Linked DNA regions of Homo sapiens. The protein of the gene in region 7 purifies or fractionates together with the protein of the main gene of each other region. This does not show direct contact. Each region holds a gene or a part of one and is shown on either strand. Other genes may lie near its edges. The genes, in order: PHOSPHO1, TES, BMP2K, AAK1, GLOD4, AP2A2 and NECAP2.

Region 1 (3,963 bases), on a different chromosome or scaffold from region 7:
AGCTGTCCCCAGTCCCTATCTGGAGGGACTTCCAACCTTCCAGATTCCCAGCTGATATCACATGTCCAACCTCAGCCAGGCGATTTATAAGAGAAAGGTCAGGGATGCCACTCCCCTTGTAAAAGCAAACATGCAGCATCTGGAGAAGCAAGGGGTAGATACAAAGATTCCAAGGGGTCACCAACAGCTACCCAGAGACCAGCTTTCATCCTATAGAGAAGGGTCTCATTACTTTGCCCTTCCTTCCTTCCTGTCTCTCTCCTTCCTTCCTTCCTTCCTTCCTTCCTTCCTTCCTTCCTTCCTTCCTTCCTCCTTCCTTCCTTCCTTCCTTCCTTCCTTTTTTCTATTCTATTGATCATTAATTATGGTCAAAACTTCTCATTTTTTCAGCCAGGCAGGGTGGCTTAAGCCTGTAATCCCAACACTTTGGGAGGCGAGGCAGGCAGATCACTTAAGTCTAGGAGTTTGAGACCAGACTGGGTGACATGGCAAAACCCTGTCTCTTTAAAAACAAAAATTAAGGCCGGGCGTGGTGGCTCATGCCTGTAATCCCAGCACTTTGGGAGGCCGAGGCAGGCGAATCACGAGGTCAGAAGATCGAGACCATCCTGGCTAACATGGTGAAACCCTGTCTCTACTAAAAATACAAAAAATTAGCTGGGTGTGGTGGCGGGCGCCTGTAGTCCCAGCTACTCGGGAGGCTGAGGCAGGAGAATGGCGTGAACCCGGGAGGCGGAACTTGCAGTGAGCCGAGATTGCGCCATTGCATTCCAGCCTGGGCGACAGCGAGACTCCGTCTCAAAAAAAAAAAAAAAAAAAAAAATTAGCTGGGTATGGTAGCTTGTGCCCATAGTCCCAGCTACTTGGGAGGCTGAGGCACGAGGATCACTTAAACCCAGGAGACAGAGGTTGCAGTGAGCTGTAATGGTACCACTGCACTCCAGCCTGGGTGACAGAGGGAGTAACCCCATCCCCAACACACACACACACACACACACACACACAAAACTCCTCATTTCTCATCATAAAATACAGTTACATTTTTCTGCTAATAATAGTATCTAGGGGATTCAGTTAAACACTTATTGTTTGGTGAGTTGCCCTTGTTTCTTTCAGTCTCCAAGGCAGAAAGTCAGGCATCTTGGGTTTCTTCCCCAGAAAACTGAGAAGGCCATGCTGTGACACCTCGTCCCCACCCCACAGGAGTCAGAGGAACCCCTTCCCCAGTTGGAATTTGGCTCCTGTGATGCTCCAAAAGGTCTCTCACCTCTGACACCTTTGTTCTGAGTCATCAAATCCTTTTGTGGTCACCAAACAGAGTCCCTCAGAGTAGGGGGCAGGATCTGAGCTTCTCTCACAGGCCAGAGCAGGGAGAAGGGCTTCTGGGGGGTTGCAGGGAGTCCATATTCTAGTCCCACCTAAAAGCAGTGCCTGCCTCCTTAATTCTGCACCGGGTCACAGATCCCTGCCTGCTTCTCCCGCCTTTCACACAAATGCTCTTAGATTAAATCTGTGGGAAGGGGGTGGGAGGGAAACAGGCCCCTCTCTGATACAGGCCCTAAGTTTCAAATTCCCCTCTTACTGGGCAGATGGAGTTCCTAGAAAAGTTTTGGGATAGTTTTCCAAAGGAAATGTGCAGAATGAGGATGGGGAGGCGAGGACTCCAGAAAGACCACAGTAACAAGCCCTCTCTGTCCAAAAACAAGTCTCCTTGTATCAATCACTAGAAATCAGATCCAACAACTAAGCTAGAATTCCCTCCCTTTCCCAGACAGTGCTCCCAAACATGACCATCTTCCTTGCTCACCACGCCCGAGCAGCAGATAGGAAAAACAGAGGCCCAGAGAGGTCAGGCTAACATCCTAGGGGTCACACAGCATCGGAACCGCGATTAGAACTCAGGAGTCTCTGGCGCCTCTTGGGAGAATTGCAGCTGGAGCTCCCCCCTTGGCCCTGGAGACTCCAGTGGGCAGGGAGCTTGCGGTCCTGACCAGCTGGCGGTGGTGGCCCTGCGCCCTGGTGCCAGTGAGGCGTCTGGGTCTAGCAGTCACCTCTGGGCACTCCCTGGGTGGGAGGACAAGCTGGGAGGGGATCCTAGGGGCAGGGGCAGGGGCAGGGAGGTGGCAGCTGCCGGTAGGGTTGGGGGAGAGATATTTTTAGAGGTGACTAGGAAGCCAGCACTCTGGCGCACCCCCGGCTGGCGGGCGCTGGGCTCCAATGCGGGCGGGGGGTGCGCGGCTCGGGGAGGGGTATTGTGGGTGGCAGGGAGCAAGGGGACACCAATTCCTTGGCTTTGTCAGAGTCGGGGACGGAGGGATACCCCAGCACTATGTTCCTGGGTAGGAGAGAGAAGGGGACTCACTCCTGAGCTCCAGAACTCCCCCAGTGCCACGCGCGTGAAGGAGCGCCTTCAAACTCCACAGCCCCCACCCCGCGCCGGGACCCCAGCCCTCCCCTATCTCCCGGAGCCCAGGACTCACGTGGGGGCGGCGGCAGCAGAGGTCTGTCCCGGCTGAGTTTGGAGTGTAAGAAGTGGGGAAGGGGGCTAGCTGAGGTATTGGGGCGCAGGATGGAGCAAGGGGTGCTTACGGGAATTGGAGGGGACGCGGTGTCTTATCCACCCCCGGATTTCTGGGCTCCGGCTCACGAGTCCCTCCAGTCCCGAGGGACTGAGGATGATGTGCGTCTGAGCCGTCCCCTCCACTTGCCCCTCATCCCCCCCGGGCAGCCGCCGCGTCCCCTTTAAATGCCCGGGAGCCGGAGCCGGAGCCGGAGCCGCGGCCGGCGCTGCGGCTGCTGCAGCAGCGGAGCCCACCGCAGTCCCCAACGTCACAAGCGACTGTCCAATCGCAGCGGTGCCGGCGCACATCAAAGGGGCGGGCCGCCCGAGGCCACGCCTCCCTCCTGCCCCGGAGGCTCCGGGAGCGCCAGCTAAGGTGGGATTAGGCTCTCGGGGAAAGGGTAGCAGGGTGGGGATGGAGCGCTGCCCTTCCGAGGAACGTGGGTGGGGGCACCCTCACTAGAGCGGCTGTGGACATACGCTAAATCCCTGCCTACACACCCAAAATTGCTAGGGCTGTGGACTTTCTCATCCGCCGCCTCCAGGGCTTCGGTTCTTGAGATTTGCAGAAGTGCACCTCCACCTCCTGCCCATTCCGCTGTCGCGTCCTAAACCCAGTGGGAGGCACGGGATGACCCAGCCCTCGGGACCCTTTTCCCCAGATTATAGGTTACTGAGGATTGCGGGGGTTGGCGGGAGGAATGACTCCCTACCCCCACCCCCGCCCGTAAAGTTGGTGGAGCGGGTGGTGACAGACAGTTTGCCCCTTTTGCAGATGGCCCTATAAATAAAAAACGCACTTTCTCCCCTGCTTCCTAAGAGTGTGTTTCTCCCCCACCCTAATCTCCTCCTTTTGGCCCTCAAAGCCTGCTAGTGAAGAGAAGGAGAGAAGATAGTGTTTCGAGAGGAAAGACGTGAAACTAGTATTTACTGAGAACATACTATGAACCGGGCATTCGAGCTAGGTCGCTGCGTTTATGGCTGAATGTTCACAACACTCGAGAAATTATTTGCCTAGCCGTTCAAACCCGGACACACCTGACTCCATTGGGTCACAAAGGGGTGTGTAGGTGGGGAGAATGCACTTTGGGAGGCCAAGGTGGGAGGATCGCTTGAGCCCCGGAGTTCGAGACCAGCCTGGACAACATAGGGAGACCCCATCTCTACAAAAAATTAAGAAATTAGCTAGGCATTGTGGCATGTACCTGTAGTCCCAGCTCTACTCGGGAGGCTGAGGTGGGAGGATAGCTTGAGCCTGGGAGGTGAAGGCTGCAGTAAACTGTGATCACACCACCACACTCTAGCCTAGGCGAAAGAGTGAGACCCTGTCTCAAAACAAAACAAAATAAAACAACAACAAAAAAGAGTGAGCTTGTCTGGGGTCACCCAGCTGGTAGGGCTGG
Region 2 (4,653 bases), on a different chromosome or scaffold from region 7:
CCACCCCAGAAAGAATTCCATAAATTAAAGGTTTTAGAGAGAATCCCATGATATAACAAATCCCTGTTTCACTACGTTGTCTTCACTGATGATTCTTAGAATCCTCAACTGGTAAATTGGAAGCTATTAAAAAACCGCAGAGATGTCCCGTATGACTCCAATTTGTGAGTCCCTTAATAGGCTTGATAGTCTAACAAAAAGTTTCCCAGTACAAAATTTGGAAATCTCAGGAATGTATTTCACAATCTTAGCCATACTCTCAAAAAGAAATTTATGTTCCTTTTAGCAATTGTTTTCTAACACGTCCAAAGAAGGAAATATTACAAGACTATCTGATTTACCAGCAGAGTCCTCACCCTATTTTGGTACCTAGTTTTCAAGTCTCCTTTCTTTTTGACTCAGTTATTCAAGAAAATTTATAGTTTGAATGTACCTTGAGAAAAGGAAGATTAAAAGTTGGAACAAAGATACAACCATTTAAATACAACTAATATGACTTCTGTTTTAAGATGTATGACATTTTTTCCTTCTAAAACTTTTACATTGTTGATTTCATGAGGAATTTCTTCCAGACAGATGAAAAGCATCATTGTTCCACATTAACATTTCATGTAAAAAGAATTAAGGAGGACTGTCTTTATTAAACAGTGATTGAGATAGATGATACTATTATAAAATTCTTGGTTTGTAAAAGGAAAGCTCGTCCACATCAGTTGTACAAATTGGGATTAATTACCAGTTAAAACCCACCATCACAAAGACAAGGGGTTTTTATAATTAGATTTTGCTATATTTTGTTTTGTTTGAAGAAAGCGAGCTGTTGCTAGGATGTGGGAGCTAGTTTGGTTATACAAAGTTTTTGTTTTAATAATACTTTAGAACAGAATTGATTCTATGTCCTTGCCCTGTCTTCTGAGTTACACATCTAGACCTCTTTCTTATTTTTTAAGTCTCATCTTAATTGGCTTTGTGTCAGTATGGTCCATGTCTGCTTGGGAAAAACAGTGGACTTTGAGAAGCAGAAACAGTCTCATTTTGCGGTGAATGGTAAATCATGGCCAACAGCCAGCTGTTTTCCTCTTTCCTTTCTGTGTTACTCTCCCATGAGAAATATTTTTTTTCAATTAAGAACATACCAACAGAGAAAGAGAACTACAATAATTTCCCTTTTACTGCCTGGAATTGCTGCAGGGCTTTTTCATTTTACCGTGTTCATTTTTTCTCTCCTCTAACCCCTTTATTTTGATTAATCCTAATATTTTGCATACTTTTCTTAAGACTCTTATTTCTTTAATTTTACTTTTTAAAAATATGATGCATTTTAAAGATTACATGTTACTAAAAATCCCCTTTCTCTGTATCCAAACTTGTTTTCAAAACCTTTGTCATTAGCCAAAAAAGCATAGTGAAACCAAATGAATACTATTGGAAAAAGGACTAAACTACAAAGATTATTTCCATTGGAAATTAGAATGAGTTATTTGCCTTAGGTAGCCCCTGGTTGAAGTGGAAAAGGCAATATATGGTGACCTGGATGCTCAAATCTACAATTGCATTCCAGGCTTGAAGCCATTCTTGCTGCAAGAACCATTGGCAAGACTAAGGGTAAAGGTAGGGCAAGGCACATCCAGGGCTTTGCTTTAGAGGTGTTCTGCCTCTCTGAACAAGTGCAGAAGAAAATGAGTGGTCCTCGGCCAGGCTTTTATAAAACTATTCTAACCCATGGTGTGATTCATTACATTGGTAGAATATGAAAAGTCCCTTTCTCTTAATTGTCCTGAATATTGGTTGGAGAAAAAAACTATAGTAGGTTTTCTATTGATTCTGTTCCTTTATGCTGTCCTATGAAGTAGAAATAGGAATTTATATTGCTACTGGCTATTACCTATGTCCCATCAACTCACCCTATGACTTTGCTTGTGCATGCCCATACTCCATCTACAGTTCTAAATTTTTTCCATCCTTCAAGGACCAACCCTTCACACTGCACACTCCTCTAGGAAATCTTTCTCCATGCTGCCACCTAGATGAAAAATATTTTCTCCTTTTCTCCTGAATTCCCAAAACATGTTATTGGTAACACTTAGGACACTAATCACTCTCCACCTCTGGATTATACTTATCTGTTGTATGTTTCACCTTCTTACCTTGCTTACAAACTTCTTGAGAGATGAATCCATATCCTGTTACACTTACGTGGTTATTTTGTTTGCTGTTCAAAGCAACCTTAGGAAGTAGGCCTTAGCCCCATTTTCAGGATGAAGAAACTAAAAGTTTAGATAGCGTAATCTGAAACCTTACTATAGAGAACTTTACTATGAACTTGAACCATAATTTGAAGAATCCATGCTGCTTCCATCATGCCAACTAGGCCGAGTCTTATATTCTTCATCTTGCTCACTAAATATATGTGGAATGATAACTGTTATAAAAAGAGAAATAAAATAAGGTACATTTCAACACTTTCACTCATTTTTTAAAGGAATTATATTTGAGGAAGTGGTTTATATTCCAATAAAATCACCATCCTGCTAGTTTTCTATATTTTGTTTCTACTTTGTCCATGTTGTATGTATTCCCTTTAGTGTAAGTTGCCATTGACATTCTTTGGGCAGAGGCAAAGTATACGAAAAGTAAAAGTATTGTGAAAAGGAGTTTCTGGGAAACTTCTACAGTCAAAGAAATAGCATAAACTCCAATAATATTCTGTACCTTATCTTCTAAGATTCTCCCAACTTCCTGACTTTTGGTGTGAGCCAATGGTAATGCTGTCTCCTAACTATGTAAAATGGCCCTAGGTAACAGTGACCCTGTATTTGGCTCTTTGTTTTGTTAAGTTTAACCAATGGCATCTGGAACTATAAAGGGATGCTCGTGGTCTTTTCTCGTGTTGAGCTCTGCAGTTGAGAGAAAGCCTTACACATAGCATGAGTAGGCTAAACCTCTTTTCCCTTGTAGCAAAGTGTTCAGAGTGCCTCTGGAGTGGCAGACCAGACAGCTAAGAATGGAGCAGCTAAAAAGAAACAAAAAACAAACAAAAAACCTCTTAATATTGGGAGAACTATTTTTTTGTTTTAATTTCCCATTCTTCATGCAAAAACATTTCTTATGAAGCTGAGAAGCTGTGGGAAACACCAAAATGATCAGATATTTCATGAGGCTCTCATGGAGCTCCAGAGTGACATCCAGCATTGTTAGCATGCGATCAACATCATAGACCATCAGTGTGCAACACGAGTTACCAAGAGGGGCTTTCTTAGTGGAAAGAGAGTGATAAATTGGTAACATGGAAGCTACTTCCTGTGTTCTTTTTCTGAGAACTAGAAGAAGGAATACAAGTTGGCCCCATGCTAATGTGTATATACCTTTTTTACATACCAATCACTAGTGTGTTTAGAAATTAGGAAAGGTCAGTAAGTCTCCAGTATATATAAACATCTATAGTGTATGGAAAGGTCTTCCATAGTGTATCCGTTTTCTCACTTCCATTTATCAGTATAATATATTTAAAATTGCCCTAAGCTGAGAGTTGGTAGATCCGAGTCCACTATTTTTTGTGATATTAACCACTTTGGCTATCAATTTCTATTTATATAAAAATCAGTAGGGGAACCAGATGATTTCTGAGGTTTCTCCAAGTCCTGTGACTCTTTGATCGTGGGAAATAATATCAGTAGTCTACCATGTGTAATGTTCCACAGTGCTTTAAAATCACACAAATGAAGAACATATATGTATAAATATATACATAAAGGAGATGGCATAGTTTAAATGTTAGTGAATTCCATGAAGAACCTATAGATTGAACCAAATAATTTTTTTCCACAAATCTTAGCTATTTTCAACTTGTTTGTACTTAATTTTCATAATATTTGTGGAGGTATTTGAAGATATTAGGTTAAGTTTAATTAATTTAAATCTGTAGTATAAGGCTCTGAAGGCTGTAATAGTGTGGGTCCCATAAGTCTAGGAGTGATGTATTACTTACCTTGGTATTTAATTATGGGAAAATGAAAAATAATGGAACATTTATTTTCTTTAAAAGTTATCTCTCTCAAAATAAGGCTGTTAAAATAATTTTAAAAGATTAAAAAAAAACTATATGAGTGCTTTTTTACGTACCATGCACTGTTCTAGACTCTGGGGTTATAGTTGTGAACAAGAATGACACTGAACTTAAGCTTGTATCATAGAATTATGCTATTGCAAGTGTTGATAGAGCAATGTAAATATTGAAAGTAAGCACAACTGGAATTATACCCGTCAGTGAACTCTTGATAGGTTAGCAGTACGCTATGTTTCTAACACAGACAGTGAGCAATTTTGATGGTGATCCCTGGGCTTGATTCTTGGTTTTGCAAACTTTGTAATTAGGGATTCTTATTTCATTTGTCTTAAGTAATAGCAAATGTAAAAGATGGGAAAATGAGAAAGCAGCTTTTATGTATTAGAATGTGAAAAAGATTATGAATGCATAAAGCTATACAAATAGACTTACACCTATAATATACACAAACTATAAGTCTTCTCCCTGCCTACAAATGCCTTACAAAAGAGTCATTCTTGGATTTCCTGTTTGCAGTCATAGCTAATTTTTGTTTGGTAACTACTGCCATGGTAACCAAAATTATGATTTTAAAAGAATTGTTTATT
Region 3 (4,653 bases), on a different chromosome or scaffold from region 7:
TATAATATGTTTTAATTTTATTATACACAATAATGTTACTAATTTATTAAAGAAAAAAGCACTATGTGAATAAAGCAAAAAATTTTAACTAGAGTAGATAAATGACAAAGAGTTCGGCAAATACTGATCTGAACTTTTTGTGTGTGTGTGTGTGTGTGTGTGTGAGATGGAGTCTCGCTCTGTTGCCAGGCTGGAGTGCAGTGGCATGATCTCAGCTCGCTGCAATCTCTGCCTCCCAAGTTCAAGCCATTCTCCTGCCTCAGCCTCCCAAGTAGCTGGGATTACAGGCGCGCACCACCACACCTAGATAATTTTTATATTTTTAGTAGAGATGAGGTTTCACCATGTTGGCTAGGATGGTCTTGATCTCCTGACCTCGTGATCCGCCTGCCCTGGTCACCCAAAGTGCTTGGATTACAGGCATGAGCCACCGCACCCTGCCTGATCTGGACCTTTAAACTGGCCTTTGACCTATACTCTGCTCTCTCCTTAGACAAAATTGTCCTAATTCATCCACCCCAATTCTTACTTTAGAAAAGTAGTTCAAGAAATCCATTCGTTTCTGTCTCCCTCTCTACCATACCCGCCCCACCATCTGTCTCTTGCACATGTGCACACACATGCATGCATGCATACACACACACACACACACACACACACACACACACACACACACACACAGAGGTTGGGAGGCATTCTATAGCAAACTGCATACTTTAGCTCTCTTTTGAGATGCAGTGTACAAGTATGCTACTGATGCTGCTGTTTCTCCTGCTCAACTCTGAGCCAAAGCTTATAGACACCTTTTCTCAGCTAATGTTTCAAATCCTTAAACAGCATTGTATGAGAACTTCAGTGTTCATGTAACAGAAGTCTAACAGCTCCTACCTCCTAGGTATCTAAAAACATTAGGAGGCATTGATGATGATTCTTAGTTACAAGATGCTAAAGCACGTGCCATTTTGTATAAGTTTAAGAAATTTTGTACCAAAGTTATTTAATTTATAACGCTACTAACCAATATGTCTCAATAGCCAAAATATACTATTACCAACTATGTTACGGTAACAGTATGTATACTATATATCATCTTAAAATACATATATGTAAAAATGTTTATACCTATTTAAATTAAATTATACAACCTTTATGAGTAAACAGTAAAATTAATCAAAGGTAATAACATGTAAATAGAGAAAGTCTACAAGGATTTTTTTTTAACTGCTGAAGTCACTTGTTAGGGTGTTGTTTATACTTACATTACCAAAAATGCCTTTACATACAAGCCAATAATATCCTTAGCCCTAAATGCTGTTAGATGTTGCTACACCTTACCTACAAATAGCAGTTAGCAGAATTAACTGAGGAAACGGAAGGATGGGGATGCCAAGGGACCAGAAGACAGGACTAGGAAGAGAGAATGGGTGGCTCTACAGAAAGATAAATTCTAAACTAATTTAAGAGAACTTAATGACCGACCATTCAACGATGACTTCCACTTCCACAATAATTTCCTTTGCTTTCACTGGAAAAATACTTGCCTATTGGCACTATAGGAGGAGTCCATTATGGTTCCAACCTGAGCTGGAAGTGATGAAGTGTAGGAAACTAAGGCTGGTGAGAACTCTTGAGGGGAGGTAAGATATTCAGGTGATGCCTGTTGTTGAGACGGCTGATGTTGAGCTAGCATCTGCTGTTGAAAGAAAGCCTGCTGATACTGCGGCATCTGAAAAAAGAAATGATATTATACAAAACAATGCTCCAGTCCTAAAGCACTGTCAGCACTGCATCTATTTACTATGTTCCTTCCTTTCACATTGGTGACAAAATCAGAAACGTAAAAAACAATCATCTACAGAAGCAGCTCTATTACTAGAAAACTACAGCAAGATGAAATAAATCTTTTTAAAAAGTTGTAAAGGTAGGCTCACTTGGCCAGAATCAAAAATCCTCTTTTAAGTATTTTAAGAAAAAGAGTAGCTTAAAGTCACTAATATAGTGGTTGCTGTTAAAAAAAAAAAAAAAAAAAAAAAAAAGGTCAAATTATTCTCTGAAGAAAATATACTCTCCCTTTGGGTTTCATTTTTTTACTCAATAGATATGTGCTGAATGAAAGAGACATGTGACGAAAGACTATAGGTAAGACATCATTTCCCTTATATAATGACATAAGAGAAGTACGTTATCGGTCAATTACTATGTGCCATATTCAGGTGCCATAGTTCAGTGCAATTTAAAGCTGCTTGAGAATATATGACTGGCTTTGATAAAATACATGTCAATTAACTTACTTGATTTTGAATTACTAAATTCTGAATAATATGATTCATACTGTGAATTCCAACACCATAATGTATACTCAGAGAAATCTCTAGAAATTATTTAAGTTACCATTGTAGGATACTGTGATGCAGAAGGTTGTGGTTGATATACCGAATGCATTAAAAATTGTTGTTGAAGCATCTGTTGCTGCTGTGTTGCATGTTGATACTACAACGAGAAAATCAAATTAATAAATGTTATGCCTTTTTTGTGTCAGAGCCCTTTTTTAAAGTATTGATCTTACCATAATGATTTGAGAAATCAGTAGTCCAAACATCAATACAAAATAGCTATACTCTAAATTACTATAATTTATTAATAAATATGCTTATCAGAACTGGTTTCAAAATTATCAACAATTAGATTCAATTAAAACCATTTTTAGCACAATTTAAGGATGTTTAGAAGAAAGCTACCAAAACACATTTACTACCTTTTCCTAGAAGATAAAGACACCTGAGTGACTTCTAACCAAGCCCCATTACACTAAATCTCCCCTTCAGTGGTGTCTTCTGGGCATCCCATGGTACCACCTACTTACTACCCTCCACTCTGGATCTATCAACCAAAACCAGGAGGGTGACAAAAATCTAAGACAATGTTACTTCTGAAAAGCCTAATATCACCTTTCCAACAATAGCATTATTAGTCTGTGAACTCAAAACGTAACCTCAGATAATATTCATTATAAACTGCAGTGCTTATTTGTGAATACTAAATGTTTCAGATGAACATTCTTTTCTTCATAAGGCCACAATGCAACCTATTTTACAGTATTCTTAAGTATTTCACTGATTGCAAATTAAATACGTATTCTTTCATAATTAGAAAATTGGGGAAAGTGTTTACTCAAATCTAGAGTTCAAGGTGCCCATGATACAAAAAGGAATTCACTGATATTCAATTTGCTGCATCAATTTCACACTACTTCCATATCTAAAGAAACAAAAAAATTACCTGCTGCATATAAGCATCTTGAAGTAGGTGGTGGTGGTGGTGGTGGTGGTGCTGCTGCTGCTGCTGCTGCTGCTGCTGTTGCTGTTGCTGCTGCTGCTGTTGCTGTTGCTGCTGCTGCTGCTGCTGCTGCTGGTGAGGATGACGATGCTGTAAATGGAGTTGCTGTAATCTCCAATCTCCCTGCTGTAGTTGCTGGAGTACTCTATGCTGCTGTGGCGGCTGCTGAGGAGGTCCCTGACCCAATAAAATTTCAGGGCCATTTCCAGGTCTTAGTGCCCCTAAAGACAGGTCCAAACACTTACATTAACATACTAATGATTTCAATTAAAAAGCTGGATTTCAACATGCTCATTTCAATAATAATTTAACTAAGGCATTTATATCCTTATTTATAACACAAAAACTTCCATATGCATAGAGTTTATAGGGATTTACTTTAATTGTAAGTACCGAAGAAGCTTAATTTTGTCGTCTACAACTCTGAACAAGTCAACATCTTAGAAACACTTCATGTTTCATACTTCGGCTCTCCATGAACACAACATCCATGTTAGTTTGTTCTACACTGCTCAACAATATCATGTACTATCATGAGTATGTATTAGTACCAATATAATTCTCTGTCTAGAATGCCACTTTCCACCTAGTGAAATTCTTATTCTTTAAAGTTTAGCTCAAACCTCTCTTCCTTATTCCTTCATCTAGCACTTCCACTCAGTTTATTACATTTCAGTCTGTCTTGCACATGTTAATGACTTACATGGCTATTTCCTAACCAGGGACCCTGAGGGAAGAGATGATGACTTACTCATCTGTTAAGAGTCCCAAAAAACCTTTTATACAAAAGATGATTAATAAATGCTCACTGTAATGGATCTATTAACACTGTCTCCTAAATGGATATTTATTTATAAGCTCCATAAATTATACCCTAGGCAAATCCTATGAATAAACTTTAAAAATTAACTAAAAAGTAAGATATACACTTAATGCAATATACTAATATACCATAATTTCTATATTCTCCTCTAATAAACTTACCCTACATTCAAATGCAACTGTTCAATCCTAGAAGATAAAAAGAGTGGGGAGAGAATGCAAGGAGGGAGAGAAGGGTTCTTTTTTCATCAATGTTAGTATCCTCAAACGTCCTCAGACCTAAGTACAACAGCTTTATGAAAATAGTTTTATAACTATTTCTAACTTTTCTAATTATAAGGAAATGCATGTTCATTTTAATTATCCTTGAAAATACTTATAAAAATGTAAGTTAAAAAATGAAAATCACAATTCCACCACACAGATACAACCATCATTAGCCTTTAAGTGTATTTCTTTCCAGTTGAAAGAGTACTAAAATAACTACTCAAAAAT
Region 4 (4,653 bases), on a different chromosome or scaffold from region 7:
TTGGTGGATGCTAAATGTTATTCTAAGAATATGCTTTTTCCCAATTCTCCTTTCTGATTTTTATGTATTAGTGGATGCAAAATTGTCTTTCTAGTTGAATGAATAATTTCGGCTAATGCACGTGGAACTTTGCACCCCAGATTCTTCCCATGGTCATTATCAAGTGAAGCCCTCAAAAACATGAGCGAAGAGCCTAGAAATACTCAGGGAGATTTCTCACCCCAACTCAGAAATTTTTTTTTTTTTTTTCAAGACGGCGTCTTGCTCTGTCGCTCAGGCGGGAGTGCAGTGGTGTGATCTCGGCTCACTGCAACCTCCATTTTCCGAGTTCAAGCGATTCTGCCTCAGCCTCCCGAGTAGCTGGGATTATAGGCACACACCACCGCGCCTGGCTAATTTTTGTATTCTTAGTAGAGATGGGGTTTCACCATGTTGGCCAGGTTGGTCTTGAACTCTTGACCTTGTGATCCACCCACCTTGGCTTCCCAAAGTGCTAGGATTACAGGCGTGAGCCACCGCACCTGGCCCAGAAATTCTTTTTTTTTTTTTAAATTATTATTATACTTTAAGTTTTAGGGTACATGTGCACAATGTGCAGGTTAGTTACATATGTATACATGTGCCATGCTCGTGTGCTGCACCCACTAACTCGTCATTTAGCATTAGGTATATCTCCTAATGCTATCCCGCCCCCCTCCCCCCACCCCACAACAGTCCCCAGAGTGTGATGTTCCCCTTACTGTGTCCATGTGTTCTCTTTGTTCAATTCCCACCTATGAGTGAGAACATGCGGTGTTTGGTTCAGAAATTCTTAAAGTAAGAGATCATTCTAATTCCCCTTTCCAAATATTCAGGATTATCTCTGTAACAGCCCAGCAAAATGTTTTTCCTTTGGTTATTTGATAATTCCCTTCTAATCAAGTGACTATTTTAATTCTCAAGGTGCAAATCAGGATAAAATCATGGTGATTTTACTACATAGTTGAATACTTCGTCAAGTATGAGCTTGTATCCTTTTTAAATTTTTCACTGGAGGCCAGGCGCGGTGGCTCACGCTTGTAATCCCAGCACTTTGGGAGGCCGAGGTGGGTGGATCACTTGAGGGTAGGAGTTTGAGACCAGCCTGGCCAACATGGTGAAACCCTGTCTCTACCAAAAATACAAAAAGTAGCTGGGCGTGATGGCACGCACCTGTAGTCCCAGTTACTAGGGAGGCTGAGGCAGAATTGCTTGACCCAGGGAGGCAGACTTTGCAGTGAGCCAAGATTGTGTCATTGCACTCCAGCCTGGGCGAGAAGAGCAAAACTCCGCCTCAAAAAAAAAAAAAAAATTGTCACTGGAGACATGATGGGTGGAGACTCTACATACCTTCTTTGAATACAGAAACGGATGCAAACACATGCAAATTACTTTTTTTTTTTTTTTTGGTGATGCATGAAAAAACTTTGACTTGTGGATTACATTAATTATTAGTAACAGTTAGATTCTGCCGACTTGTATTACAGTAGGGTCTTATTTCCTTAAAGAGAAAAAAAAATACAGTCATGCCCCACTTAATGATGAGGGAGACATTCAGAGAAATGCATCCTTAGGTGATTTTGTCATTGTGTGAACATCACAGAGTGTACTTAACACAAACCTAGATGGCACGGCCTACTACCTACCTAGGCTATATGGTCCAGCCTGTTGCTCCTGGGCTACAAACCTGTACAGCATGTTACTGTACTGAATACTGTAGGCAGTTGTAACACAATGGTAAGTATTTCTGTATCCAAACATTTTAGACATAGAAAAGGTACAGTAAAAATATGGTATAATCTTATGGGACCATCATGGTATATGTGGTCCATCATTGATGGAATCGTTTTTATGCAGCACATGACTGTATATAATCAACAAACAACTCTACTTTCTTGTTTTCGTTTGTTGTGTTTTTGCTTTACACATTTGATAGGGAACATAGAAGTTGTGACCTTTCATTTCAGTGGAAAGCATTGAGCCAGAATATATTTATTCCTAAACCATCGAGCCACACATGCATTGATGAACCCTGAAAGAATCCACAGTAATTGACTAACAGGCAGTACTGAATGAAAGATGTCATATGTGGTGAAAAATATTTAATATATCAGTTTCTTGGGCTCACATACAGCCCTTTAGTTCCAAGTGCTTGGTTAGATTAGAAAATGGGATGAACACAATTTGATGCTGAAGCAGCTGCTGAGCAGCACCCAGGGAGTCTAGGTCATACGCCCTATATTGTTTTCGGCCCACTTATTGTTGAGTTGAAAAGTCTCATATTTGTAGACTAGAGTGTATGTGTTTAGAGGCTCATGTTGTATCTGAGTTTTCTCTGGCAACTAAGATCTCTTTCTAAACGTTCTAGAAAGATACTGGTATCTTACTGGCCCATTATTTAGTAAGTTTTAGAATACATGTACATCAGTGTTTTCAACTGCTTGGTGGACATTTCACTGATGCATAATCAAAGTAGCAGATTATAATCATCAGAGTGATCTGACAAGGAAATTCTGTATTTGCTTCCATAAAGAAAAATAATCAAAACATATATCAGATATAATATATATGCAGTATATCACATAGGAAATTTTATTGTAGGAAATTAGAGAAGGATGCTACTCAATTCATTCTCTAGCAGGAAGAATACAGCTTAAAAATCACTTGGGTCCCTTTAATAAAGAAAAGTGTGATTCTGTGTTGTGTGTTTGGAACTGAAATTGGAGAACACGTGCCAGTCGACTGTGAAATGGTTGCTGGATAAAACCACAGATGTGGTTTTATCCGAGAAATGTGGGACTGAAATTATTTTGATGAGAGGTACATAAGAGAGCTGCAGAAAAGACTGTAGCTTCTGAGGAGGCAGGAGTACCTTGTTAATATCCAAACCACCCCTGAGTTCTAATGTTCCAACTCCACCTAAACGAGGAATTGGAAACTTTAAATGGAATTATCTAATTTAAATTCTTAGTTTTTTCTTTGTCTTTCTCAGCTGATACTTGTAGTTTTGTTTTGTTTTTTAACCACCAAGAACACTTGCAAGTTTGTTACTGAAAACATCACTAAAGGAAAAGAAGAGTTTCAAAATGCTTGAAAAGTAGTATGTGGTTGGGAATTGTTTTTGTTCAAGTCCCTGGAAGTCCTCTTGGCTTAGCTCCCTTGTTCCTGTTCCCACTTCATTTCCTTACTTAACATTCCCCTATTTTGAGCATGTCAATAAGTGCATGATGAATGGCACAGTTGAATGATCATGTTAACTTTAATTGCTTCCTTTGTTGCTGTAAACAGTTTCTTGTTAAGTTTCAGCCAAGTCTGTGACAATCTCACCAAATAAGAATGAAATGGGCGGGGTGTGGTGGCTCACACTTGGAATCCCAGCACTCTGGGAGGCTGTGTTGGGCCGATCGCTTGAGCTCATGAGTTCAAGACCAACCTGGGCAACATGGCAAAACCTTGTCTCTACAAAAAATACAAAAATTAGCCAGGCATGGTGGTGCACACCTGTAGTCCCAGCTACTTGGGAGGCTTAGGTGGGAGGATGGCTTGAGCACGGGAGGCAGAGGTTGCACTAAGCCAAGATCGTGTCACTGCACTCCAGCCCAGGCAATAGAGCCAGACCCTGTCTCAAAAAAACAAAACAAACAAAACATGAATGAATGAAATGGCTCACCTTCCCTATTATGAACTAGAAGAAAGGATGAAGGAAGGTTGGCAGGACCCCAGCCTTACTCTGTAGTGACAACCCAGAGGTACTTTTCCCGGAATGCAGGGTCAAGTTTATGTGTGAAGGGACTCTAGAATAGCTGGTAAAAATGGCTACATGGTAACCATTCTTGACTTAGTCCAGTATTCCCATAATTTGTAATTCCATAAATTTATTCTCAGCTGTCCCCCAGCCATTTCTAATAGAAGGATGTGTACCCCAGTTTTGACAATGTTCTTGAAATCAAGTTAGTGTTACCTGCATTGCATTATAATGGAACTATATGTACATGTTAAAGGGATCCGTTTGATTCCTTTCGGCAAGGAATTGCAAAAATAGTTTTTACCAATACCAGTTAAAATAGGATAGGTTAGACTTTGGGGGCAGGGTGAGACAGTGCAGCCTTTTCACTCTGAAATGGCAAATCAGCTGTACTCTTTGAGTCTACCAGAGATTCCTATTTGAGTGTGAATGGGGTGTGTGTGTGTGTGTGTGTGCTCATTCATCTTCATGCTTTCTTCCATGGTGTTAATTCAAGCTCTCCTAATAAAGGTATCCAAAGAGTACTGAGAAGTGACCATAGGTATTTGGCATGAGTAAATGTAGTTCCTTTTGCCAAAAAAACTCTCAAAAGTTACAACTGGAGTTCTTCGCGATAAAAGGTTGGGGAAATCAGCCATGGCTTTAGCCTTGTTCCCAAGTACACATCTTCTTATCCACAAGGATGAAACTCTGTAGGGCTCACCCTGAGGGCTCATGTGTGGCATTGAGAGGGTAGCAGTGACCAGAACACCACAAGGCCCACAAGATGTTTTGAATGAGGGAACATTTAATGTCATTTGTTAGGAGATAGAAACCAAATAATAAAGGACAAGGACCACGCTCATTCCGTGGAGAAGAGGTGAACTCCCTCTGCTGACTATTTGGAATGG
Region 5 (4,378 bases), on a different chromosome or scaffold from region 7:
GTGACTCAGAGTTGGACCGTTTCATTTCTAAAAAATCTTAGTACTATCTGATTTATTATCTTGATGAAAATAAGAATTTAAAAATCAAAGATATGCTTAAAAAAACCACAAGTCACAAATATGCACGTTTCTGTCTTTTAGGAGCCATAAAAAGTGGGAGGAAAGAACAACTAAATTATTTGGAGAACCTAAGAAAGCTTTTTTTCTTTTTTGAAATGGAGTTTTGCTCTTGTCGCCCAGGCTGGAGTGCAACGGCGCCATCTCGGCTCACTGCAACCTCTGCCTTCTGGGTTCAAGTGATTCTCCTGCCTCAGCCTCCCAAGTAGCTGGGATTACAGGCGTACACCACCGTGCCTGGCTAATTTTTTGTGTTTAGTAGAGACAGGGTTTCACCATGTTGGTCAGGCTGGTCTGGGACTCCTGACCTCAGGTGAGCCACCCGCCTTGGTCCCCCAAGGTGCTGGGATTACAGGGGTGAGCCATCGCGCCCGGCTGAACCTAAGAAAGCTTTTAAGTGTTGAAGGACAAGTAAAAGAGGAGAGGGAAAAAACCCTTTGGGTTGGATGCAAGAAGAAGTATCTTAGCTAATATAACCAGTTCAGTGGGACTGGAATAGGGATGAGTTAGGGGACTTAGGGAGGCAGGTGGGAAAGAAGGTCAGAGGGTAGAGAATGTCCAAAAATGTCACATGCTCTGTCAGAGAGTTTGAAATTTATCTCAGAGGCAAGAGAGAGCTATCGGATTAAACGGTTTTAAAAATTACTGGCTGTTTGCTTTGGGACAGACCGTAAGTTGACAATGAGGCCTTTCAAAGGGAAAGCTGATAGGCAGAAGACATTTCAGAGGTAGAACTCACAGCTCTTGGTGACTAATAGCTAAAATAATTTAAGGATGAGGAGAAATAATGGTCAAAAGTGACTGTCTGTAAATCTAAAACGACTATTAAATGTTAAAAAACAAAACACAACAAAATAACACCAAAACTGGCTCTGAGGATTCCAGCGTGAACAACTGGGATCACAGACACGCTGTACTGTCCAGGGAGGGAGCAGGGCGCAGAGGAAGAAAAAGGACTAACTGTAAAGCCTGAAAGGCTTCCATCCAGGCCCCGGCCTGCACCTACTCAGTGCGTGATCTTCAGGGATGAAGGGGAATAATTTCATCACCATCCAGGCCCCGGCCGGCACCTACTCAGTGCGTGATCTTCAGGGATGAAGGGGAATAATTTCATCACCATCCAGGCCCCGGCCGGCACCTACTCAGTGCGTGATCTTCAGGGATGAAGGGGAATAATTATTTCATCACCATCCAGGCCCCTGCCTGCACCTACTCAGTGTGTGATCTTCAGGGATGAAGGGGAATAATTTCATCACCATCCAGGCCCCGGCCTGCACCTACTCAGTGCGTGATCTTCAGGGATGAAGGGGAATAATTTCATCACCATCCAGGCCCCTGCCTGCCACTTACTCAGTGTATGGTATTCAAGGGTGAGGGCCAATGACTTACTCATTCTTAGCCTCGGTTTCCTCATTTGCAAAGGCTGATGCTATCAACCTTGCAGGTTATATTAAGAATCAGAGAATGTGGCTGGGCGCGGTGGCTCACGCCTGTAATCCCAACACTTTGGGAGGCCGAGGCAGGCGGATCACGAGGTCAGGAGATCGAGACCATCCTGGCTAACACGGTGAAACCCCGTCTCTACTAAAAATACAAAAAAATTAGCCAGGTGTGGTGGTGGGCGCCTGTAGTCCCAGCTACTCGGGAGGCTGAGGCTGAGGCAGGAGAATGGTGTGAACCCGGGAGGCGGAGCTTGCCGTGAGCCGAGATCACGCCACTGCACTCCAGCCTGGGCGACAGAGCGAGACTCCGTCTAAAAAAAAAAAAAAAAAATCAGAGAATGTATATGAAGCACTTAAGGTTGGATGCGGTGGCTCACATCTGTAATCCCAGCACTTTGGGAGGCTGAGGCAGGTGGATCACCTGAGGTCAAGAGTTCGAGACCAGCCTAGCCAAAATGGTGAAACCCTGTCTCTACTAAAAATACAAAAATTAGCTGGACATGGTGGCGGGTGCCTGTAATCCCAGCTACTCGGGAATCCCAGCTACTCTCCTGAGGCAGGAGAATCACTTGAACCTGGGAGGCGGAGGCTGCAGTGAGCTGAGATCACACCACTGCACTCTAGCCTGGGCAACAGAGTGAGGCTCCATCTCAAAAAATAAATAAATAAATAAAAATAAAGCACTTAAGAACGTACCGATATAGTAGCATTTATTTCTTTTTATTTTTATTTATTTACATATTTTTAGTATAAATAGAGAGTTCATCTGGGCCAAGCTTGAAGACTGCAGCCCGGGAACATAGATTCAGGTTTCCCAGAATCTACACTCCCAAGTAGCCTTTATGTAATATTACTGGAAGAAGAATGGATTTGAGGTAAGATAAGTTATGGACACGCTGAGTCTGATATGTGGTAGGTTTCCTAGGTGAAGAGGTTCTCAGGATATAACATCGGTCTGGACAGAGAAAGTGCTACATGTAAGAGAAAAAGTTCATAAGCTGGACTTCACCAAAATAAAAAATTCCTCATCTTCAAAAACTCAATTAATGGCTGGGAAAAATACTTGAATTTGCAAGTGACGAAGGAATGATGAAAAACTACAGTACAGAGTCAAGGTAAGAGTCACGTAAGGCTCTGTCGTACTCTCTTCGGTTGTGCATATTTGGAATTTTCATCATGAAATATTAAAAATTATTAAAGAATGGACAAAAGACTTGAACATAAAATTCACAAAAATAAGTAAATGGCTAATAAGCACATGAGAAGGTGCTCAATATCATTAGTCATCAGGGAAATAAAAATTAAACCTCTGTGGGGCCGAGCTGGAAGGATCACTGGAGGCCAGCCTGGGCAACACAGTGAGAATCTGTCTCTACAAACATAAAAAACATCAGCTGGGCATAGTGCTGCAGCCCTAGCTATGTGGTGGCTGAGGCAGAAGGATCGCTTGATTGCACCAATGAAACCATTTCGCATGTGCTAGAATAGCTAAAAAACCCACAAAAAGCAAAATAAGTGTTGGTGAGAATGTAGACCTACTGGACCTCTCGTGGACAAACGATGGTCCGATCACTTTCGATGACTGTTTGACACTTTCTTATACAGTAAAAGCAGTTCTACTCCTAGGTATTTACTCAAGAGAAATGAAACATCTATCTACAAGAAGATTTACACTAGAATGTTCATGGCAGTCTTCCTTATAATAGATTAAAAAATCTAGAAATAAACCAAATGTCCACCATTATAAGAATGAATGAGCAAATTGTTATATTCATAAAATTGAGTATCAGTCAGCAATTAAAAAAAAAAGAGCTGTGATATGCAATTACATGGTGGAATCTCAAAACCATGTTGAGTAGGCCGGGCGCGGTGGCTCACACCTGTAATCCCAGCCCTTTGGGAGGCCAAGGTGGGTGGATCACAAGGTCAGGAGATCGAGACCATCCTGGCTAACACGGTGAAACCCGTCTCTACTAAAAATACAAAAAATTAGCCGGGCGAGGTGGCAGGTGCCTGTAGTCCCAGCTACTCGGTAGGCTGAGGCAGGAGAATGGCGTGAACCCGGGAGGCGGAGCTTGCAGTGAGCAGAGATTGTACCACTGCACTCCAGCCTGGGTGACAGAGCGAGACTCCGTCTCAAAAAAAAACAAAAAACAAAAAACAAAAAAAGCCATGGTGAGTAAAAGCAGCCAGGCACAAAAGGAAAGAAAATACTGAATGACTCCATTTGTATGAAGTCCAAGAACGAACTCACCTACAGTGACAGAAGTCAGAATAGCAGCTGATCTGGGAGATGAAGGTGCCAACTCACTGGAGATGGGCATGAGGGAACTTCCTGGGAAAATGGTCTGTATTCTGAGTAGTGGTTGTATGAGTAAACACAACCGTCAAAACACATTTAAATTCTACCTAAATTATGCCTCATCAACAACAACCACCTGTCTGAGCTGAGGAAGGAGTTAAAAACTGGAAGTGAGGAGGCTGGAGCCAGGATGATGGTTACGTTCAGGGCAGAGGTAAGGAGAGGTCGCAGGTAAGCTCTCATCAGAGTGGAGGAAGAATGCAGAATGGGAAAAACAGCAAAGTAGGGCTATGGGTATAAAAACACTTTGGGATGAGACACAGAAAGAGGTGCCCGTGTCTGAGGAGAAACTGTCAGGAAGATGAAAATGGTAGGATGGCCAGGCGCAGTGGCTCACGCCTATAATCCCAGCCCTTTGGGAGGCCGAGGAGGGTGGATCACCTGAGGTCAGGAGTTCAAGAGACAGGGTTTCACCGTGTTAGCCAGGATGGTCTCGATCTCCTGACCTTGTGATCCG
Region 6 (4,588 bases), on a different chromosome or scaffold from region 7:
AGTGAGCTGAGATCTTGCCACTGCACTGCAGCCTGGGCAACAGAGCGAGACCCTGTCGTTCATTCATTCATTCATAAATAATGCATACATCATTATTTATGTATGCATAAATAACCAAAAAGGAAAAAGAGTGTCTGCAGGGCGTGGTGACGTTGGAGCCTTGTACGCCGCTGGTGGGAATGTACAGTAGTGCGGGCACTGTGGGAAGTTCCTCAGAACACAAAAGAAGATGGAATTACTCTGTGACCCAGCAGTTCCACGTCTGGGTACAGACCCCAGAGAATTGAAAGCTGGGTCTTAAAGAGGTACCTGTCCACCCATGTCCAATGGCAGCACTATTCACAATCACCGAAAGTTAGAAACAGCCCAGATGTTCATGGGTGGATGCCTAATTAAACGAAATGTGGTCTGTCGACGCAGTGGAATATTATTCAGCCATCAAACGGCAGAAAGGAATGAAATTCTGATGCATAAAGCAGCACACATGCACCTTGAGGACATGGTGCTCAGTGACACGGGCCAGACACCTGGACAAATCCTGTGTGGCTCCACTCATGCGGTCCCTAGAGCAGTGACTTCGTAGAGACAGAACGTAGCTGGGGGATGCCAGGGCCTAGGCCAGGGGGATGGGGAATTGGTGTTTAATGGGGACAGAGTTCCGTTTGGGAAGATGAGAACGTTCTGGAGATGGTGGTGGTGGCAGCAGCTGCACAGTGTGGATGCACTTCCTGTGCCCTTGTGTGCACCTAAATATGGCTAGGAAGGTGAATGTTAGTGTATTTTACCACAATTTAGGAGAAAGACATAAAAAAGCCTTTGAGTGTAAAAAAATGCTGTGCACGGAACCCTGTGGCTGCAGGGGCCCTGGCTGCGGACCTGCCTCCTCTCAGCGCCTGCCTTGAGCCTCCTCAGGACTGCTCTCTCTCTCATCTGTGAAAAACACAGAAAGAATGTGAAAAAAGAGAATTAGTCCTCTGCCCGCCAGGGGTCTGTTAGAAAAGTGAGGGTTGTCAGAGTGATTCCTGTGGGAAACGCTGCATTGAAAACAGGTGGTGCCTTTAGTCCTGGTTTAAGTTTTTAAGCTCTGGGCCGTGATAGCTTCACGAGGTGTTGGTTTTGGGTTTTTAAATTGTGGGAGGAGTGATGCCAAACTGTTTACTGTTTTCAAAATATTTGAGATTTCCTTTCTGAATTCAAGGGGTATACAGATGTTCACAAAGATTTTTTACTGTGATATAAATAAAAACAGCGACACATCCTAAATGTGCACCTGTGCCGTGGCTGAGCCGCTGCAGTGAGGGCTAGTGTGCAACACCGATGCTGTGCTGGACGCGTGCCCAGCCGGGTCCCCTGACAGGAGGCAGCCGGGGCCGGTGCGTGTGTTTGCATGTTGCAGTCATGGGGCGGGGCCGGCAGAGGCCTGTGTGATTGTGGCGTCCCTGGAAAAGATGCTTGGCAGGCCCCTCCAGCTGTAGCCCAGCCTGCAGACGGGGCGTTCTGTGGGTCCTTCCCCGTGCATATGCGTGTGATCTCACCCATCCCGTGTGGGTGCGCAGGAGGGGCCGAGGGAGGAGGGTGCTGGAGGGCGGAAGTTACCTCTGACTGGAGGAGATACCCGGCCCGTGTTACCAGCACTGGTGTGCTCGTTCTAAAACTGGAAAAAATTTGTTCTTAATTTTAACAACAGTCATACATCACAACAGTGAACTTAAATTCAGCTGAAGATTGTGGGGGGCTCTTGTTTTTCAGGGTAAATATTCAGGGTAAGTGTGAAATGGTGTGTGTGAAAAAATTGTTTTTGTTCCTTCTAGGTCGGATGTTTATCTTTTATGGTAATAAGACCTCCACGCAGTTCCTAAACTTTACCCCAACACTAATCTGTTCAGACGACCTTCAGCCTAATATCCTTGGCTTCATTGCCCCATGCCCGCAGACAGCATAATGTGGGGCTTAGAGGAGGCTTTTGAGGAAGTTTTTTGGTTTTCTTATTTTGTTAAAATAGCGAGATAATTCCAGATGCTATATGAAAATCAGGCAGTCGTAATCTGCCTATGGTGCTGGGCAGGAGAAGGAAAACAGGCAGTCTTCCATATTGGAGAGCCAGCTTTTGATCATGCACCTAAAAATACCGTGTACATGCCTCCTCCCCTTCCATCTGGCCAGTGTGAGTCCCTTTCCTTTTCACCTGCTCTTACTCTCCTGTGACGTGATCTTTAAACCCCTCCTCTCCGAAGCCTCACAGAGCTGCTGCTTGCAGAGTGTGGGAGGCGCCAGTGGGGACTGGAGCGCGGTGCGCACCCCAGCCGAGCTTGTGTGTGCTTCTGGCAGAGCTTTTAGACTGAAGATTTTCCCTTCGTAATGCCAGAAGCGTTCCTAGAACTTCCCCAGCTAAAACAGGGAGACGCTAACGTCTCTACCTCTAAGGATAGGCCCGCCAAATAGAGTTAGCGTGAAGACCCCAGCTTGACCAGAGATGGTGACACCTGGGGATTTATGGTCAGCGACCTGAGTGAAGCAACATCCTCCTTGCCACTGGCTGGTCTGTTCATTTTAACATGAACATGTTTTAATGCAGACTGTTCAAGCTGTTTCAAAACAGTCATTAAAAATACACATGCAGGAGCACCTGTATTAAAGACTTTGTTTGGAATCTGGAGTGGAAGCTCTGACTCCTACTGCGCCCTTCTTTAGGGGTCTCTCCCTCGGGGTCCACTTGGCTCGAGGCGGCAGCGAGCCCAGCAGCTGAGTGGCCGGCGGCACACGACCCAGAGGGAAGGAGAGGCCTGCACCCCGCTGCCTCCTGGACCCAGCTTTGCTGCTGTCACTGTTTCTTCAGGAGAGGCTGTAGGCAAACCCTTGTTTTCCAGCATGAAAACAACCCTGGTCCCAGCAGGGCAGGCTCTTTTCTGTGTCTCGCTGTTTCAGGAGCCTGCTATTCCTGGGATTCTTAAAGTTTTCCTGCCCTACTAAGCACCAGTTTCTGCTAACGGTGACAAAAATTGTGTGTGTAAGACCCAGAGCCGAGGCTCAGAGTGAAAACAGACAAGTAGTATATAATCTAAGTGACTTTTTAAAATGGAGGAGCCATTCTGGAAGCGTGAGAAGCAGACAGTGTTTTGAGGATTGTCTGGGTGGAAGGGCAGGGCCGGGTGGTGTGGCTGCCCTCGACCCGTAGCTGGTGGTCCTAGAGTGTGGTGAGTGTGCTCGCCTCCACGGGTCCTGCTGGGGCTCTAGCCCGGCCCGTTTCCGCTTCTGCCACTGGGACTTGCTCAGCTGGATTCCTTAACGCACGCACACCTGAACCTGCAGACCAAGCCCGTGGACCCGACCGTGGAGGGGGGCGCGCAGGTGCAGCAGGTGGTCAACATAGAGTGCGTGTCCGACTTCACGGAGGCGCCAGTCCTCAACATTCAGTTCAGGTAAGAGCCGCCTGTGCGCCCCGGGCCAAGGGGTGTGTGGGCGCCTGAGCTGTGTGCCTGGGCTCCATGACTGTGCCTCCGTGTCCTTCCTGAGGGGACCCGGGGCGTGCGGGTGCTCACGGTGCATGGATGCGGCCTGAGCTATTGCTGCCCCCGGCTCTGCAGAGCGCAGGAAACAAGGGGAGGCGGAGCCCTGGGCTCCGGGACGGCAGGTGGCAGCTCCCACATGGGGCCTTGCTAGGATCTTTCTGGGCACCATGGGGCCCACCTCATGGGGTGGCAGACAGCCAGGGCCCCCGCGCCACCTGCCCGGCTTGGTACCAGACGACAGCTGTGGGGTGCAGGCAGCTGGTTTCCTTCGGCCCCCTGGCCTGGGGGGCGCGTTTTTTGCTCAGTTGAGCTCAGATCGTACCACTTTGCTTATTTTTTAAAAGCATAGGATTTTCCTGTTGCGACTGTTCATTACTCTCACTTTTCAGTGACTACAAATAGCGTGGATACAGTCAGCCCGTCCCCTGCTGGGTGTCTGCAAGGTTAGGAATGTTGAGAAAAGCACACTTTCTAACATTAAAAAGACAGAGAACTTAAGATTGTATACTGTAGAATTCGGGGACATAGACATGCAAGTTTTTGTTTCATTCTTTGTGCAAATGCCTTTGCCTTTTTAAAGAAAAAACATCACACTATTTGCACAGACTTGGAGTTCTGGGAAACAGATGAATGGGGAGAAGTGAGGCACAGGGACGTCCTGCCTGAGTATGCGGCCCTGGCCTGTCCTCCTGTCTGTGGGTGACACTGGACACTGAGCCACACACGATCCGTGGGGACTGAAGGCTCGGCCCCCCGACCCGCTCTGGTGGGTGGCAGTAGATCGGGACGCTTCTCACTCCAGGCTCTTTCCCGGTCCCTGGGGCTCTCAGAGGAGTAGCTGACTGTCTCTTTCTGCTGCTGCTGCTGCTGGCAGGTATGGGGGCACCTTCCAGAACGTGTCTGTGCAGCTGCCCATCACTCTCAACAAATTCTTCCAGCCGACAGAAATGGCTTCTCAGGATTTCTTTCAACGTTGGAAGCAGTTGAGCAAGTGAGAAACCTGTTTCCTGTAGGGGTCAGGGGTGGGGACGGGGCTCATTTGAAAAGGTGGGTTTTGGTCTCTGGCCTGGCTGAGAACA
Region 7 (4,008 bases):
TTCTTACAGAATCCTCAGGCAAAAGAAGTGTTGTGGCTTTTTTTCATTTTTAATTCTTTTAGAGAATTCTCTAGGGTCTCACTGCTGCCTAGACTGGAGTGCGAGGCCGTGATCATAGCTCACTGCAGCCTCAAACTCCTGGGCTCAAGCAATTCTCCCACCTCAGCCTCGCAAGTAGTTAGGATTCCAAGCATGCACCACCACCACACTAATTTTTTTTTTTTTTTTTTTTTTTAAGAAATGGGGTCTAACAGCCGGGTGCCGTGGCTCACGCCTATAATCCCAGCACTTTGGGAGGCCAAGGCGGGCAGATAACTTGAGGTCAGGAGTTTGAGACCAGCCTGGCCAGCATGGTGAAACCCCATCTCTACTGAAAAAATACAAAAATTAGCTCGGTGTGGTAGGTGCCTGTAATCTCAGCTACTGGAAAGGTTGAGGTAGGAGAATCACTTTAACCTGGGAGGCGGAGGTTGTAGTGACCAAGATTGCTCCACTGCACTCCAGCCAGGGCAACAGACTGAGACTGTGTCTCAAAAAAAAGGAAAGAAATGCATCTTACTATGTTGCCCAGGCTGGTCCCAAACTCCCAGCCTCAAATGATCCTCCCGTCTTGGCCTCTCAAAGTGCTGGGATTACAGGCGTGAGCCACTGCACCCGGCCTCTTAATTTTACTTTTGACCTCTGGGTATCTGCACCCCTTTACTACTTAGGGAGATGCTCTGCCGGTAGGTTTGGTGGAAGACGGAAAGCAAGGGGCCAGGCTCTCTAGAACGGCCTGTATCATGAGACGCCACAAGAGAATTAAGCCCCACACAAAGTGATTCAAGCAACTACTTTCACATCAACCAAAGGATGATGAAAAGACTGTACTATCCTAGAGAACACAGGAGAGAAGGTACCGATTGCCTTAGACAACAAGGTTGCATTTCCTCACTTTGGCCAGCCTCACACCCCAGCCCTGAACTTTCAATCTGGACACTTGGTCAGTGGTGAGAGAAGTGGCCGTGAGTCTAGCTGTGGCACCCTGAAGAGTTTAACAGCCACGCGGCCAGAAACACATTCATCTTTCACATACAATGACAGAAGTAAAAATATTTATTTTATCTTAAAAATCTGGTCCCGCAAAAAGGCCAACACTTTTTTCAGTTCACGGTCTTGACCTTTCAAAGAAGAAATCTTTCAACTGAGAGGTGAGTTAATAAAAGGAATGTCAGAGGTGCTTTCAGATTTCTTATAAACCAGTAAACCAAGCAACCCTGGACTTCTAGTTTACTGAGCTCCTTCTTCTAGCCATTCACAGTTCCTGAAGGAGAAAAGAAGTTGTTTGCAGATAAGGCACTTTAGAAACCACCAAAGAGAAAACCCAAGTCTGCCAGGAGCTGCACTGTGAACATGTGAGCCGAGAGGGCCACCAGCAGACAGAGTGCCAACTCCCACAGCTCCATGACAACAGCATCCACCTTCCTGCCCCAACACTGTTCCGTCTGGCTTCCAGCACCCGCCTTGGCTCTGTGTTGCCTACCTGGCCTAGAATACATGGAAACCAGACAACTGGCCAGAGATAAACACTGCTGCCTGAAGCTCAGGGCAGCTGCCCACAGTGAGGAATCCCTTCAGAGGCCCCAGCTGGGGCACGCCGAGGGAGCAGTTCCTTTTGCAAAGATGAGTTAGTGCGGATCAGCACATTAGCAAAGCAAAATATTTAAACATTTTTAAAAGCTGCTAATCCTTCCAATTTCCCTCCTGATTGTAGCTCAAGCTGCAGCCTCTAAACCTGCTAAAAATCAGGAAGAAACCCCTCCTCTGGAGGGCAGATGGACTGAAGTGGCTACAGCCAGTGTGGGTACGGAAAGCCTCCCGCTGAACTGTGATCATGTGACACCTGCAGACCCTGGGAAGGGCTGATCTGAATCCTGGCAGCAAACTCAACCTCTTCTTTTGCTTGGGGGGCTTGTGTTTAATACAGGTCATTGCGATGGAAGAAGTCTCAGAGTCTCTCTCACATCAAGAGGACAGATGGGGACAGGGATCCTGGAGCTTTTCTTCTCCTGTGTTCTGGTTGCATACTTGAATCCCAGGAAACAGTGTGACACGGTGCCAATTTACTGCCAAACATGCCCGGTTTGTCAACAGAGCCAGACAAGGAGGAGAGGAGAGATTCATGCCCCAAACACAGGCCAGCTGAGGAGGGCTTCGTCCTCCTTCCTTTGGCCCAGATGAGGGAGCGCCTTCCCAGAAGTCACATGAGGAAAAACCGTGCTCAGGTCAGAACTGGACCCAGCCTGTGCCTGGCTGGGTCTGGCTGGAAGTTGATCTGTAAAGAGAAGACAGGGAAGGGTGGGGGAGTTCAGATCTTTGAAAATACAAAGCAGATAAAAGTTGGTTTCTCTCTGGACAGAAAAAGCTCTAAGAAGCCAGTTCCTAAATGTTCTAGAGCAGCAGTCAGCAAACTCTGGCACAGAGACCAAATCTGGCCCTCGATGGTTTTTTTTTTTTAAATAGTTAATGTAACTGTATTTACCAAAGTTTTTTGTTTGTGGTTTTGTTTTTTGTTTTGTTTTTTTTTTGAGACAGGGTCTCACTGTCGCCCAGGCTGGAATGCAGTGGCACACTCAAGGCCAACTATAGCCTCAACCTCTTGAGCTCAAGCGATCCTCCTACCTCAGCCTCCCTAGTAGCTGGAACTACATGACCGGTTAATTTTTGTATTTCTTTTAGTAGACACAGGGTTTTGCCATGTTGCCCAGGCTGGTCTCGAACTCCTGGCCTCAAGTGATCTGCCTGCTTTGGCCTCCCAAAGTGCTGGGATTACAGGCGTGAGCCAACATGCCTGGCCGAAGAGTCTTAACCCCTTTCCCATGTAGAAAAAATATAGCTCACTGCCAGCCCTCATTTAATTTTACATAAACATGCTCTTTGAGGCTGAAGCAAATCTGACTGATTTTCAACGTGAAAATAAAATATAAAAACTGTTCTTGGAGTTATTTCAGAATCATCTGAATAATCAGAACTATTTTGGAAAAATCAGACTCCTCAAATGAATCTTAGGCTAAAAACTGTTCAAGAACGATGTTAACATCACATGTAAGAATGCTGCGTTTTCTAGGATTTGACTTTTTCAGTAATCAATAATTACTATATTTTGGGCCAGGCATGGTAGTTCACGCCTGTAATCCCAGCACTCTGGGAGGCTGAGGTAGGCGGACTGCTGGATTCCAGGAGTTCCAGACCAGCCTGGGCAACATAGCAAAACCCCGCCTCTACTAAAAATACAAAAAATTAGCCGGGTGTGGTGGCAATTGCCTGTAGTCCCAGCTACTCAGGAGGCTAAGGGATAATCACCTGAGCCTGGAAGGTCAAGGATGCAGTGAGCCGACATCACGCCACTGCACTCCAGCCTAGGCAACCAGAGTGAAACCTTGTCTCAAAAAAAAAAAAAAAAAAAAAACAGAATTACTATATTTTGTAAATGGAAATACCACTATTAAAAACAGAATGCTATAAATAGAATGTCTTTTGTTCCAAAGCTGATATACTAGAGCGATGCAAAAATAATATAAAAGCAATACATTTTGTGGCAAAGTTATCTCAGGGTCAACGCTGCAGTCTGAAGTGCCACTGGCAAGTTTTCTCAGGGCAAACAGGAAAAGGGTTACAGTCCTCATTTCACGCCTCTGTTTTTTTTGTTTGTTTATTTGTTTTTTGAGATGGAGTCTTGCTCTTGTGACCCAGGCTGGACTAGAGTGGCATGATGTCAGCTGACTGCAATCTCCCGGGTTCAAGCAATTCTCGTGCCTCAGCCTCCCAAGTAGCTGGGATTACAGGCACCACCCCACCACGCCCAACTAATTTTTGTGTATTTAGTAGAGATGGGGTTTGACCATGTTGGCCAGGCTGGTCTTGAACTCCTGACCTCAGGTGATCCGCCTGCCTGGGAATCCCAAAGTGCTGGGATTACAGGCATGAGCCACCGCGCCCAGCCCATGCCTCTATTTTTGTAAATAAAAT

What was found.
Region 1: the proteins of NECAP2 (region 7) and PHOSPHO1 purify together in Homo sapiens (affinity purification with mass spectrometry; one large-scale study listed by BioGRID and IntAct). This does not show direct contact.
Region 2: the proteins of NECAP2 (region 7) and TES purify together in Homo sapiens (affinity purification with mass spectrometry; 3 studies listed by BioGRID and IntAct, with this or other methods). This does not show direct contact.
Region 3: the proteins of NECAP2 (region 7) and BMP2K purify together in Homo sapiens (affinity purification with mass spectrometry; one large-scale study listed by BioGRID and IntAct). This does not show direct contact.
Region 4: the proteins of NECAP2 (region 7) and AAK1 purify together in Homo sapiens (affinity purification with mass spectrometry; one large-scale study listed by BioGRID and IntAct). This does not show direct contact.
Region 5: the proteins of NECAP2 (region 7) and GLOD4 purify together in Homo sapiens (affinity purification with mass spectrometry; one large-scale study listed by BioGRID and IntAct). This does not show direct contact.
Region 6: the proteins of NECAP2 (region 7) and AP2A2 purify together in Homo sapiens (affinity purification with mass spectrometry; 4 studies listed by BioGRID and IntAct, with this or other methods). This does not show direct contact.

The regions. Positions count from the first base shown.
Region 1 is NC_000017.11:49,227,988-49,231,950, forward strand, and holds the start of PHOSPHO1 (phosphoethanolamine/phosphocholine phosphatase), read right to left. Parts: upstream 2,801-3,963; 5' UTR 2,481-2,800; intron 1-2,480. UniProt on the Homo sapiens protein: Phosphatase that has a high activity toward phosphoethanolamine (PEA) and phosphocholine (PCho). Involved in the generation of inorganic phosphate for bone mineralization.
Region 2 is NC_000007.14:116,212,864-116,217,516, forward strand, and holds part of TES (testin), read left to right. Parts: intron 1-4,653. UniProt on the Homo sapiens protein: Scaffold protein that may play a role in cell adhesion, cell spreading and in the reorganization of the actin cytoskeleton. Plays a role in the regulation of cell proliferation. May act as a tumor suppressor. Inhibits tumor cell growth.
Region 3 is NC_000004.12:78,869,687-78,874,339, reverse strand, and holds part of BMP2K (BMP-2-inducible protein kinase), read right to left. Parts: intron 3,558-4,653; coding exon 3,280-3,557; intron 2,491-3,279; coding exon 2,392-2,490; intron 1,727-2,391; coding exon 1,542-1,726; intron 1-1,541. UniProt on the Homo sapiens protein: May be involved in osteoblast differentiation.
Region 4 is NC_000002.12:69,458,273-69,462,925, reverse strand, and holds part of AAK1 (AP2-associated protein kinase 1), read left to right. Parts: 3' UTR 1-1,214; coding exon of another isoform or gene 1,215-1,259; 3' UTR 1,260-4,653.
Region 5 is NC_000017.11:761,310-765,687, forward strand, and holds part of GLOD4 (glyoxalase domain-containing protein 4), read right to left. Parts: intron 2,531-4,378; coding exon of another isoform or gene 2,381-2,530; exon of another isoform or gene 2,253-2,380; intron 1-2,252.
Region 6 is NC_000011.10:1,004,717-1,009,304, forward strand, and holds part of AP2A2 (AP-2 complex subunit alpha-2), read left to right. Parts: intron 1-1,811; coding exon 1,812-1,901; intron 1,902-3,295; coding exon 3,296-3,419; intron 3,420-4,383; coding exon 4,384-4,500; intron 4,501-4,588. UniProt on the Homo sapiens protein: Component of the adaptor protein complex 2 (AP-2). Adaptor protein complexes function in protein transport via transport vesicles in different membrane traffic pathways.
Region 7 is NC_000001.11:16,457,148-16,461,155, reverse strand, and holds the end of NECAP2 (adaptin ear-binding coat-associated protein 2), read right to left. Parts: intron 2,315-4,008; coding exon 2,266-2,314; coding exon of another isoform or gene 2,160-2,265; 3' UTR 1,078-2,159; downstream 1-1,077. UniProt on the Homo sapiens protein: Involved in endocytosis.